Linked DNA regions of Homo sapiens: region 1 is linked to region 2. The links come from fine-mapping of genetic effects on gene expression. Tissue or cell type: whole blood. Region 2 holds a variant in brackets; the other region holds the start of a gene. All regions are shown on one strand. Distances are between the middles of the regions.

What was found. PIP is the estimated chance that this variant, and not a neighbour inherited with it, causes the effect.
Region 1: POMC starts here. The variant in region 2 is fine-mapped to the expression of POMC in whole blood (TOPMed, PIP above 0.99). The same link has a PIP of 0.9 or more in lung.

Annotation. Positions count from the first base shown.
Region 1 is chr2:25,165,771-25,171,439 of GRCh38, reverse strand. It overlaps POMC (proopiomelanocortin), which reads left to right and starts at 2,860. Exons shown (of 3, transcript NM_000939.4): 1 at 2,860-2,942. RefSeq lists cis regulatory regions at 2,558-2,583, 2,584-2,757, 2,823-2,835, an enhancer at 2,744-2,763 and a promoter at 2,174-2,986.
Region 2 is chr2:24,894,554-24,902,805 of GRCh38, reverse strand. The region is part of intron 2 of ADCY3 (adenylate cyclase 3); the gene reads left to right. Among named protein-coding and RNA genes, the nearest start is that of ADCY3, 22 kb to the left of the region's middle. RefSeq lists an enhancer at 3,151-4,070. The variant G/A (reference allele first, on the strand shown) is at 3,714.

The sequences.
Region 1 (5,669 bases), 270 kb before region 2:
CCATCTCATGAACATCAATGCAAATGTCTTAAATAAAATATTAGCAAATTGAGTCCAGTGCTTTCTGTATAAGGATAATACATCATAATCAAATTGGGTTTAATCTAAGAAGCCATGGTAGGTTTAACACCAAAAAATCAACAATGCAATAATTCACCACATTACTAGAATAAAGGTGAAAAATTATGTCATGTCAGACAATCAAAGGCACCTGTTCTAGGCTTTCAAAGAGGAGCTAGTGGTACAAGGATGCAAGGGCAGTGGTGACTCCTTTCTAGTGGCATTAGCTGAAGTGAGAATGGCAGCGTCCCATCCTGGGGACAGAAGTGACGTCTATGTCAGACGCCTGTGGTCTTGACATGCCCCTTGTGGCCCCTTGTGGTCTGTTTTTTTTTTCTCCACTGGATGTGATTTTGGCCATGGTTCCAGCCACACTGTGTCCCTGCCCATTTTTAGATCCTGGTCCCCCAACCTGCCCAGTGATTTTTTTTTTTTTTTAGATGGAGTCTTGCTGTGTCGCCAGGCTGGAGTGCAGTGGCGCGATCTCGGCTCACCGCAACCTCCGCCTCCCAGGTTCAAGCGATTCTCCTGCCTCAGCCACCCGAGTAGCTGGGACTACAGGTGTGCGCCACCACGCCCGGCTAATTTTTGTATTTTTAGTAGAGACGGGGTTTCGCCATCTTGGCCAGGAATGTCTCCATCTCTTGACCTCGTGATCTGCCCAACTCAGCCTCCCAGAGTGCTGGGATTACAGGCGTGAGCCACTGTGCCCCGCCTACCCAGTGATTCTAAATGCAGTTCAATGGCCTTTCAGTTCATGGAGGCCAAAGCAGGTTCTGCTGCATTAAATTAAGAAACTGGGCTGGGTGTGGTGGCTAACACCTGTAATCCCAGCACTTCAGGATACTGATGTGGATTACTTGAGCCCAGGAGCTTGAGACCAGCCTAGGCAACATAGTGAAACCCTGTCTCTACCAAAAACAAAAACAAAAACAAAACAAAAAACCAAAACCCAAAATTAGCTGGGCATGGTGGCATGCATCTGTGGTTCCAGGTACTCAGGAGGCTGAAGCATGAGGATCACTTGAGCCCAGGAGGTGGAGGCTGCAGTGAGCAGTGTTCACACTGCTGCATTCCAGCCTGGGCAACAGAGTGAGACCCTAATTCAAAAACAAACAAACAGAATGAGAGAGAGAGAGAAGAAAAGAAAGAAGGAACCCAGTTAAAGAAGTTGGGTCCATTTGGATTTTTCCTGGTTTGTTTTATCTGCTGCCACCAGCAGCCTCCTGAAGTTACAAAAATAACACAAAGTAAAATAAGGCAAAACCACCATCTGCTTGAAAGAGTTTACAAACCTGATGGTGGTCGTGGGGTGGATGGAAGATTAAAAAAATGGGGACAGAAGTGAATTAGTGCAAGCCACTTGCACTGACAAGATGGGGATGGACTTCTGTGGAAGGCAGAGGAGGTCATGCCTCATGCCCCTGGTAGGAAAAGTGGCCAAAGAGGGCTTCAGAGAACAGGGGCTGATGGATGGGCTACATCTTGATGTGAGTCAAGCTCCTGGATGGCTGGAGAGAGGAAGGATGTTCTAGTTGGGGGAACAGCTTGGACAATGGAGACCCAAGAAAGCCATGTTCTAGCAGTGTGAATGTTGTGGATGCTGAAGTGCCAGGATGCAAGGTGGAGAACTGGGAAATGGCCCTGGAAAGGGGCCAAAGCCGGGTGATGAAGCACCTTGTCTACTGTGACGGAGCTTGGATCTCTCTTGTGGTCCAAAGGGAAAGGATTGCTGAATGTAAAGCCAATGTCACCAGAAAAGCTGAATCCACAAGAGAGTCCTGGAGTCCAAAAGAGCATCTCATGGGGAATCAGGAAAGTTCTGGCATTTGGCAGATTAAGCAAGTGTCTTGATTTGAAGTCCAGTTTAGTCCCAATACTCCCTCCCACACCCACCACATCGCACAATTTGGTTTTGTTTATTTACTCCAGGTTAAGGTAGAGTCTCTTAGCTTGGTTTGAGTGCTGTACTCTTCTCTCTGGTCTGATATTTGGAACTAAAGCCAAGCCAGAACTCCAGGGCCAAGGGGGATGTTGAAAATTGTCTGAGTCCCCAGACCACCCTGCCAGCTCATGGCAAAGGGAGGGATCAGAGGCCACAGGGAAAGCACTTCAGCTGCTCTTCACAGCATCACCCTCTCCCCATTTAATGGTTTAGGTTAACAGGACTTTTTCCTTGAGGCTTGGGACACGGAAGGGAGCCTCCCCTAAACCAGGCCCTTGGAGAGCAGGCCCCAGGGGAGCAGTGCAACTCACCTTCACACCCACAAGACGGCTCCTGACTTCTGCTCCCTCCTCCCCTCCCCAAAGTGGAACAGAGAGAATATGATTCCCCACGACTTCCACATCACAGTTTCCAAACAATGGGGAAATCGGAGGCCTCCCCGTGTGCAGACGGTGATATTTACCGCCAAATGCGAACCAGGCAGATGCCAGCCCCAGCACGCACGCAGGTAACTTCACCCTCGCCTCAACGACCTCAGAGGCTGCCCGGCCTGCCCCACACGGGGGTGCTAAGCCTCCCGCCCGTTCTAAGCGGAGACCCAACGCCATCCATAATTAAGTTCTTCCTGAGGGCGAGCGGCCAGGTGCGCCTTCGGCAGGACAGTGCTAATTCCAGCCCCTTTCCAGCGCGTCTCCCCGCGCTCGTCCCCCGTCTGGAAGCCCCCCTCCCACGCCCCGCGGCCCCCCTTCCCCTGGCCCGGGGAGCTGCTCCTTGTGCTGCCGGGAAGGTCAAAGTCCCGCGCCCACCAGGAGAGCTCGGCAAGTATATAAGGACAGAGGAGCGCGGGACCAAGCGGCGGCGAAGGAGGGGAAGAAGAGCCGCGACCGAGAGAGGCCGCCGAGCGTCCCCGCCCTCAGAGAGCAGCCTCCCGAGACAGGTAAGGGCGCAGCGTGGGGGACCCGTGCTCTTTCCCCGGGATCCCCTGTCCCCGTCCTCGCGATGCAGTCGGCCGGCTCCGGCTCCGAAGGCGGACCTGGGCGCCTCTGGCTCTCCGCGGTCCCGAGTTCTCGACAAACTTTCTGCGCCGACTGCGGCATGAGAAGCCGCCAGTAGCTGAGCTGGAGGGCCCACGTCCGGCCCCTGGGCGGACGGCCGCGAAGCTGCAGGCGCTGTCTCCAGGGAGCCGGCGGCCTCCTCTCCCCCAGGGGCTCGCGGCGGTCCGGAGGCTCCGAGAGCTTGCTAGGAGGTCTTGGGACAACCCGGTCTTTTTTTTTTTTTTTGAGACGGAGTTTCGCTCTTGTTGCCCATGCTGGAGAGCAAAGGGGTGATCTCTGCTCACCGCAACCTTCGCCTCCCGGGTTCAAGCGATTCTCCTGCTTCAGCCTCCCGAGTAGCTGGGATTACAGGCATGCGCCACCACGCCCGGCTAATTTTTGTATTTTTAGTAGAGACGGAGTTTCTCCATGTTGGTCAGGCTGGTCTCAAACTCCCGACAACAGGTGATCCGCCCGCCTTGGCCCCCCAAAGTTCTGGCATTACAGGCGCGAGCCACCGCCCCCGGCCAGCCCGGTCTTTTAGTATCTCTTGCTCCCAGTTTCCAGGATAGGTGTCACATCTTGAAAGTCAAATTCCATACACGCTATCGCAAATTAATGTTGGAAACGGGGCAGCAGAGAAAAGGATAAAAGTCATAATGAACGCCCTGCCTTCCGGATTTTTTCGGATTCAGACCCCTGAATCCTTGTTTCCTTGCCCACCTTAGCGCACCCGAGGTGGCCGCGCTATGATAATTACATGATAACTGGGTCAATTACAATGCAGAATAGTTGGGTCTCTTCTCTCCAAGACCTAGCTGGGGTTAAAAACAGGTGGCCGGGGCGGGAGCTGTCCTAGATCCTGAAACGCACTGTCTAGTTTCGGATGCCCTCAACAGAACCGGGGTGGACGGTTTATGGCGCAGATCCTGGGTTGAGGGCACGGGCAGCCATTTGGAATGATCAAGGCTCAGGTAAGGGGCGTTTCCAGCGAAGGAGAGACAGTCCACTTGGCATTTGGATTCCCCAAATTCTTCATGTTTAAATGGGGCAGGGAGGGTTCTTACAGAATGGCTGGAAGGAGCCAAGGAAAATAAAAGTGTGTGTGGATTTTTTTTGTGTGTGTGTCAGTTTATAAACTCTGCACAGATTATGGCCACTTTAATGACTTACTGTTCCTTTGATGCTTTTGTTATAGGACTCGATGCATGTATGTCATGGTGTAAGGACAAAACTCGGCCCCTGTGCTCCTCTAATCTTTACAAAAGGTCATGGCCAGCGTGCAGTTTTACAGTAACAAGCAAAATGATTTGTTGAGCTCATAGAGAGCCCCTCACACCTATGAAGTTCTAATAAGTGTAGTTCTACTATAAAGTTAATCTCAGGATGAGCAAATTTCAAGTTTCTATTTTTCCAGAGCTTTCCATTTTTGGATTATAATACTTTCCCTACTTAAAAAAGCACAACATTTGATATTTCCCCAATAATTTGTTGCTTTAAAAATGACACAAAAGGTACTATTTGTTCATTGTAGAGAACTGAAAATACACATAAGCAAATACACATACACATAAGCAAAATATACAATACAAACACAAGACCATCTTTCAGGGAAGAATCTGAAGTTTTAGCAATAGCAGCCATCTAACCAGTTTAGCAACAGAATATAAGCTCTGAGAGGGTGGGAGTGAATATGTTACCACATTGTACAACACAGCACATAGGGCATAAGGAGGGGAAATGCTCTCTGGGGCTTTCCAGGAAGGCCTGAAGTCATTGCTTCTAGCAAATGGAAATCACTCCAGAGTAGTTATCTTTGACAAGAATTGAAATATAATTGAGGGAACTATCAGACCTGTAAGATTTTGTTTTTTCCTTTACTAATATGTTACTTTACATTTGCATTTGGTGACATACGTAACTACCATTTTTCTGTGACTGTAACATCTGGGCATTTTTCAGAGCTAAATGTGCTATGGTCAACTTGGAGCTTTAATCTAATTGCCTGGTCCACCAAGTTCTGGCTGTGTACTTGAATAGATCACTGGCAGGGTACAATGGGAACAGCCTGTCCCTTGGAGCCAGGAGAGGACACCAAGGTTGACCAAAGCTCGTTCAGTTGCCCCTTTAGCCGAAGCGCACCTGGGCCAGTCACTGGCTGCCAGTGCCATCTAATGGCTGCTCTGAAAATGCTCAGCCTTGCCCGGCAACCCTTCAGAAGCTAGCACCGTGCAGGCCCAGCGCCTGGGGAATAGGGCGAGGGTGGGGTAGAGAGAAGGAAGTGGCCTCCTGAAGTAGAAATCAGCGCTTCAGAGGACTTTCACTTCCAAAGCCTCCCCTATATAAAAAAGATTTGGCCCACGCCTCCCCAAATGAGAGATTTATTTTAGGCAAACTTATTTTAAAATGCCAGCGTTCATTAGGAGTGACAAGACACTTAGTCATCCACGCTTTAATGTGAATTACTTTTCTCATCTAATTACATTTCTTTCTAGCAGCTGGCTGAGAAGATCTTCTGAAATCCAAAATGATTGTAGGGTTGGCGGTGAGCTGATCTCCGGCCTCGAGGTGGCTTCAGGGGGCCCACCTGGTTAAGGGAAATTTGGCAGTGCGAGGGTAGTGCTGGAGAG
Region 2 (8,252 bases):
CACCCACCGCGGCCTCCCAAAGTGCTGGGATTACAGGCACGAGCCACTGCGCCTGGCCAGGAAAATATATTGACTATTCATTAAGTGGAGGTGGATCATCAAAAGGTCTTCATCTGCATCTTCACGTTGAGTAGCTGAGGAGGAGGAGAAAGAGAAGGGGTTGGTTTTGCTGTCTCAGGGGTTGCCGAGGTGAAAGAAAATCTGCAAGTGGACCTGTGCGGTTCAAACCCTGTTGTTCAAGGGCCAACTATGGTGTGGTAAGAGCTATGGTACCTTAACAGACACTCCACGGGGCTGGGAGAGAAGTTGACTTGGATGGGGCACCATGGCACATGTTGGGATGATGGCAGTCTTTCGTATCTTGCTTGGAGAAGTAGTCACACAGCTGTACATATTTGTCCATATTCATCAAAATATACACCTAAGGCTGGGCAAGGTGGCTCACGTCTATAATCTCAACACTTTGGGAGGCCAAAGTGGGAGGATCGCTTGAGCCCAGGAATTCGAGACTAGACTGGGCAAAATAGTGAGACCTCATCTTTACACAGAATTAAAAAATTAGCCAGGCGTGGTGGCACACACTTGTGGTCCCAGACACTAGGGAGACTGAGGCAGGAGGATCGCTTGAGCCCAGGAGGTTGAGGCTGCAGTGAGCCATGATCACAACACTGCACTCCAACCTGGGTAACAGAGTGAGACCCTGTCTCAAAAAAAAAAAAAAAAACCAAATACACACACACACACACACACACACACACACACACACACACAGAGTTAAAATGTGTGCCATCTACTAAAATTCAGTAGGTTTTATAAAAAGTCAGTAAAATACAGGAATCACAAAAATTGTGCATACATATATACATTTATATGTATTTTAAATAGTTTGTTTTAATTGAAAACATTTAGCTATACAGTCATTTGCCAATCTTTTGTTGAAGGGAAAGTTCTTTCCTTTTTATATAGGTACTCTGTTTGGTATTCCTTGTGGCCTTTTTCTTTTTCCTTCTTCTTTTTTTTTTTTTTAAAGATGAGGTCTTGCTATGTTGCCCAGGTTGGGCTTGAGCTCCTGGGTTCAAGTGATCCTCCCACCTTGACCTCCTGAGTAGCTAGGACCACCGGTGTTAGCCACCACCCCCTCCTATGGCCTTCTTTTGCAGCTGGGATGTGTTGTGTGTCATTTCCAGTTTCCTTAAAGTGGAGTAAGAATTAAAAGTCACTTGGAAGGAACCTGGGTACAGAATCCCCCTACATTTTTATTACTGTTCTTTCTTTTTGGCCAAATTGTTACTGTCTTGCCTACCTTGAATTCAACAGCAATTTCTTCTAGCTACTTATATTTGTCAAAAATGTTCAAAATACTCACTTTACTTTTTTTAGAAACAACGCGCTTTCTTTCACATCCATATTTTATCTGTGTAGGTTATATTTAATTAAGTTATGTAAATATAATACCAAAAACAACTGGCATAAACAGGTTTGGGACTAAACATAAGTGATTCTTGGAAAATACTCCGAAAGTTGGAGCAGAAATAAATGCATGGCCTTCCTAGAGAGGAGCTTGCCTGCGGCACGTGTAACGTCAGTTGATTTCTGGAGGGACTGGACTATCTTGGTGGATCCAGTGTCTCGGCTCTGGGGACTCCAGCGCTATCCTGTGCCCCTGCCCCTTCCTGCTCGGCTCTGACCTGCTCCCTCCTCGCTGCTTCCATTCCTGGTTCTTTCATTTTCCTTTTTTTTGAGACGGAGTCTCACTGTTGTCGCCCAGGCTGGAGTGCAATGGCATGATCTCGGCTCACTGCAACCTCTGCCTCCTGAGTTCAAGCGATTCTCCTGCCTCAGCCTCTCAAGTAGCTGGGATTACAGGTGCCCACTACCACGCCCAGCTGATTTTTGTATTTTTAGTAGAGATGGGGTTTCACCATGTTGGCCAGGCTGGTCTTGAACTCCTGACCTCAGGTGATCCACCCGTCTCGGCCTCCCAAACTGCTGGGATTACAGGCATGAGCCACCCTTTCCTGGTTCTAATTTGTCCACAGGAAGTAATGCATGTCTACTTCTTGTTTTCTACACAGCAGCCCTTCCAGTGTTTGAATTCAGCTATGTTGCTCTCCCTGGATCTCCTCTTCAGCCTCGCCCATCTCCCTTTTTCAAGAAGTCCTCAGGCGACATGGTTTCCAGACCTTACATGGTCCTGGGCACTTTCTCTAGGTGTAGACTAAAGCGCATTGCTCAGGACTGCCTTCTCCTGTTTGCCCAGGCTGCTCACAGAACCTTGTCCATCCTGCCTAGCTGCGGGACACAAACACTGCAGGTAGAAATTCTGTAGCTATACATTTAAGATTGGGGGTATGGCCCCCCCATTTCTGGAAAGTTTATATGTCAGGCCTTAATGATAGAGCTATTGTCTACATAAACATTTACGTTTTTAAAAAATTTTTTATTTATTTTTTTTTTTTTTGAGACAGAGTCTGGCTCTTTTGCCCAGGCTGGAGTGCAGTGGCATGATCTCAGCTCACTGCAACCTTCGCCTCCTGGGTGGTGGCGCACACCTGTAATCCCAGCTACTCAGGAGGCTGAGACAGGAGAATTGCTTGAACCTGGGAGGCGGAGGTTGCAGTGAGTCGAGATTTCGCCACTGCACTCCAGCCTGGGTGACAGAGCAAGACTCTGTCTCAAAAAGAAAAAAAAAAAGGCAACTTCATTTCATATGATTCAATCTAACATAAAAGTAACAAATGTATTCACTGTGGAAAGCCTGGAAAATACTATGTAGTATGAAAAAATATTACCCATAATATTATTTCTGAAGGATAACTGCTATTAACATTGAGGCTTCTCTTAAACGAATATCAGTTTTCTTCTATATTATGAAGCACTATTGTAAGAAAATAATTCAACCTAGACAGGAGTACAAAGAATAAAAGTGAAAGTCCTCCTTCCTTCCCTTGCTCCCCTTCTCATAGGTACCCATTGCCAAATGTTTGGTGTGGATACTTCCAGAGATCTTTCTGTGAATTGCATATTTATGTGACTCTATGCACATTTAGGACAGATACATTCTTTATATAAGCTTATGCAAATCGGGGAAGCAAAGCTCTACACACCCCTCTATGGTAACTGTAGTTTCCTCTCAAGGGGATGAGATGCCTCTGCCGTCTGCAGCCCTGCCTCCATCAGCTGGGTGGTGCCACTCGAGGTCCACACTGGTGGCCTCCTTGAGCCACAGCCACCTCTCGAGCTGAGGAAGAGTCAGGGCTGGTCTAGCAAGCTGCTTCTGCTTGCTTCCATCTGCAGCAGCAAGAAGGCATCTTTCAAGGGCCTACTGGGCAGGAAATCCAGGGACAGTTTTGCCTGGCAGGCTGGTGGCAGAGGTGGCTGGGGTGACAGCAGCATTCCAGCCGAGAGTGAGGTCCCGCTCTTAGACAGACATGGGCTTTGGTCGCAAGAGAATGGTTTATTTATTGGGATTGAAGAAGGCATCAAAATCAATACAGTCATCACCTCACAGGGCAGAAGAGCGGATGGTGGTTTGGGGAGAAGGAGGCGGTGTGCCAGGAGGAGGGAAGCGTGGCCCAGAGTTGGATGCCTGGGGCCCTGGGCAGCGCAGCTGACCTCCCTGGGCCTCTGTGGGTCAGCTGCCTAGGGAGTTGCCTAGGCAGTTGGCAACTGCCTAGTGGCTCTGCCTAGGGAGCAGAGGTAGAGACAGGTGA[G/A]CTGGGAAAAGGTGGGAGGGGTAGGGGGACATTGGAAGCCAGTGACACCGGGATTCAGGGTGACAAGGGGCATGAGGGGACAGTGGAGTGTTTGGAGGCTATTGAGTGCGTGGTTGTGTGGTGAGAACAGGGAGAATGGTGGTGGAGCTGGAGGGAGGGCAGGTCACCTGCCGTGGTCGTGCTTGGCGTCCGCGCTGGAGTTCTCTGGCGGTGAAAGGGTTTCCAGTGTGAACTGGAGCTATCCCCAGGCTGCAGACCTCCCACTGCTGAGCTGCTGTTGGTTGCGTGGTAAATTTTGCTTTTGTTCTCCCAGTCTTAGGAATTCTGTTTGCTTCCCCGAACCTCCCAGGCTTCCCCAGGCAAGGGTTGTCTCCCCAGAGACCTGGAGCCGGGAGCTGTGCGGTTTCCTGGGACCTGTGGCTTCTGCTCCTTTGCTTTGTGGAAAGGAAGTCAGAGGCGGAAATGGGAGGGCTCCTTTCCAGTGCTGCAGGGCTCCATTGAGAGGCTGATTTGAGAGTGAAGATCTTCGGAGGATATTTCCTCTGGCTGAGTGTAATTGACTTAATCTGTGGTGTGGCTCATTTTTCCTTTTGGAAAAAGGAGAGATGGCGCCTGACTCACCCCTTCATGAAGCACTGTGTGAAGTACACGAAGCCCCTCTCCCCGAGGACAGCCCTGCATAGGTGCATTCCCACACAGTCAGTGTCCCGACTCCCATCCCGCAGACAGTAGGTCCACTCCCTTCCTTTCTTCTCGGTGCGAGGGTGGGGCTCACCCCACGGTGATGGAAAGGCGGTCCTCGAGCCTCCCCGGGGGCCTCTGTGGCGCACGAACTGGGAGAGTGGAGAGAAAAGCCCCTCAGGAGGAGGAGTACTGAGCTGGGCCGTGAAGGGCACGTTGGATTTCGATCCTGAGGTCAGTAGGGGAGGGGCAGTGGCAGTGGCTTGTGAACAAAGGTCTGGGGGTGAACATAGACGGGGTAGTGGAGAACCTCTGACTGGAGAGTTGGGTGCAGTAGTAACAAAGAAGCCTGGAAGGTTATTTGGGATCTGAAATGGGGAGGAGTAAAAGCCATATGAGACAGTTCTGACTCCATTTTGTAGACAGTGGACAGCCATTGAAAGCTTTGGAGCAGGCAGTTGACCTGAGCCCTGCTACCTTTCAGGAAGATGATTCTGGCAGCGAACGGTGATGGCTGTGAGCAGCAGAGTATGTGAGAACCTGCCTGAACGTGGCGGGATACAAGGACCTGACCTGAGCCACCGAAGCGGGTATAGGAGAGAGAGGGATTCGTTCAGCCAGCATAGACGGAGGGCCTGCTGGTGCTCAGCATATTAGAAGGTGCAAAATGGAAAAGTCTGGGTTGTTGTCCTTGCTGAACTTCCCGTGTGAGTGTGAAGATTTCAACACACTCCCCATAAACTGATGAGAGACTATTTCAAATCACCCATGAGAAGGTGGAGGAAGAGAACAGCCAGCCACATGTGACATCGTGATGGTAGAGTTGGGAGGAACACTGACCAAGCACCTGTTTCGCGCCGGGCACTGTGTCAGGTGCTCTGATCCTCTCCCCAACCCTGGGGAGATTTCAGAGAGAGACTGAGGTGCTTTCTCAGGGACACACAGGCCCTTGGCAGGTGAGGCTGGTGTTCAGCTTCTGCTCTGTCCAGTTTCAGAGTCTTGGCTCTTTATGCCAAGGGCAGGGGGCTTTGAACCAGGCCTTGAAGTTAGTGGTAGCAATGGAGGTGGGGGTACATTCTATAAGAAGTCCCAGAAAGAGAGAGGGAGAGAGACAAAGAGAGAGAGAAGAGGGAGGAGGAGGAGGAGGAGAAGGGGGAGGAGGAGAAAAAGGAGAAGGGGAAGGAGGAGGAGGGTGTGGCTGAATTAGAGACCAGGAATGGCAGTTAGGGAAAGATGGGGTACAGGTATGGTAGGCAAGAGGGATATGGTTGAAAGAGGGTGGGTGGCTGGTCTCTTTCTTCCTCTGATCTACCATGATGTCATCTTGCGAAAAGATGATGAGACTTCTGCTTCCAGTCGAGAGTGAGCAGGACAGCCTGGAATTATTCTCCCACTGTAAACAACTAGGAGCTGGATAAAATATAGGGACCAGGCAATGGTGGACTGTGATTCCTTGGAAAAAGAAGACTAACCGAGTGAGCCCTATCGTTCATTACCTAGCCTTTCTACCTGAAGAGAATTCTACCACAGGGAGGGAGAACCCAAACGGAGACTGGCGAGATTACTAAGTTGAGGGAACAGAGATCAGAATTTGGAGACACCAAGTTCTAAGGTTTCTAGAATCTGTGGGACAGAATCCTAAAAGGAAGAAGCTGGAAAGAGAAAGATCTCCAGAAATCTCGATAGAGGCCTCCTGGAATCTCGGTGAATATCAATCTGCTCATGCACAGGGCAACCCTGTGAGACCAGAAGAGAACAACTGCAGAGGGAGCTGTAAGACAAACAGGATAGAGCCAACACAGGACCAGGGTTCACTGGAGTCCTCTTTAAAAGAATATGACAAAATTATGCATTGAAAAATGGTAACGTTTGCAGTGTGAGACATCCAGCAAAAAATTACTAGACAAAGAAGGAAATGTGACTGACCCACTAACAAAAAAAAAGTGGTCAATAGAAATAGACCTAGCAATGACAAAGATGTGATGGAATTATCAGGGAAAGGACATGAAAATAACTTTTTTTTTTTTGTAACAGAATCTCACTTTGTTACCCAGGCTGGAGTGCAGTGGCACGATCTCGGCTCACTGCAACCTTTGCCTCCCAGGTTCAAGCGATTCTCCTGCCTCAGCCTCCGGAGTAGCTGGGATTACAGGTGCATGCCACCATGCCTGGCTAATTTTTGTATTTTTTAGTAGAGATGGGGTTTCGCCATGTTGACCAGGCTGGTCTCAAACTCCCGACTTCATGATCTGCCCATCTCGGCCTCCCAAAGTGCTGGGATTACAGGCTTGAGCCACTGTGCACAGCCCGAATATAACTTTTATAAATATGTTTCATTTGATCAAGCATGTAAATGAACACATCAGGATGATGGGAAGAGAAATGGAAAGTATAAGAAGATCCAGTAGCACCTCTAGGGATGAAAAATCAAAATATCAACTACAAAATCAAAAATGAAAAGCTAGGTAGATAGGATTAATAGTAGATTAGACAGTGCAGAAGAAATGATCAGTGAATTGAAGCTAGAGCAATAAAACTATCTAAAATTAAGCACATAAAGATAAAATATTCCACCCTGGGCAATATGGTGAAACCCTGTCTCTACAAAAAATACAAAAATTAGCCAGGAGTGGTGGCATGTGCCTGTGGTCCCAGCTACTCAGGAGGCTGAGACGGGAGGATCACATGAGCTCAACGGCATAGGTTGTGTTGAGCCAAGATTCCATCACTGCACTCTAGCTTGGGTGACAGAGTGAGACCCTGTCTCAAAAGAAAAAAAAAAAGAAGAAGAAAGAAAGAAAAAACATTGACAAAAGGTAATACTCAGAGCATCACTGGCATGTGGGACAATATAACAGACCCTAATATGTTTAATTGAAGTCTCAAAAGAACAGAGAGAAAGACAGAAAAAAATATTTGAAGAAATAATGGTGGGAAAACGTCCAAATTTGATGAAAACTCAACCCATGACTCAAGAAGCTCAACAGAATACAAACAAATATAAGGAATAAGAATGAAGAGAATTGGTCAGGCGTGGTGGCTCATGCCTGTAATCTCAGCACTTTGGGAGGCTGAGGTGGGCGGATCACAATGTCAAGAGATCGAGACCATCGACAAACATGGTCAAACCCCGTCTCTCCTAAAAATACAAAAATTAGCTGGGCGTGGTGGTGTGTGCCCGTAGTCCCAGTTACTCAGGAGGCTGAAGCAGGAGAATCGCTTGAACCCATGAGGAGGAGGTTGCAGTGAGCCGAGATTGCACCACTGCACTCCAGCCTGGCGACAGAGCAAGACTCCATCTCAAAAAAAAGAAAAAGAAAAATGAAGATAATTACATCAAGGCACATTGTAATCAGATTGCTTAATAAAGATACACTCATAAAAGTAACCAGAAAGAAAACAAAAAGGAAAAAAAAGACACACGACATAGAGAGGAACAAAGATAAGAATGACAGCAGATGTGTGGTCAGAAATTATTCAAGGCAGAAGACAGTAGAACTGAAAAAGAAAGTAGGTCAATCTAGAATTCTATACCCAACACAAATATCCTTCAAAAATGAAGGTGAAATAAACACTTTTTGATGGACAAACTGAAGTTGAGAGAATTCGTAACCAGCAGACCTGTAGTACAAAAAATGTTGAGGCAAGTTTTTTAGGCAGAAGAAAAATGATACTAGATAGAAATTTGGGCTGCACAAAGGAGTGAAGAGGCTTCCAAATGGTAAATTATATGGAAACATATGAAAGTTATCTTTTCTCATTTTTAATCTCTTTGAGAAACTGCTTAAAGCAAAAATATAAACAAGGTACTTTGGAGTTTAGAACATACATAGAAGCAAAATGTATGACAAAAATAGC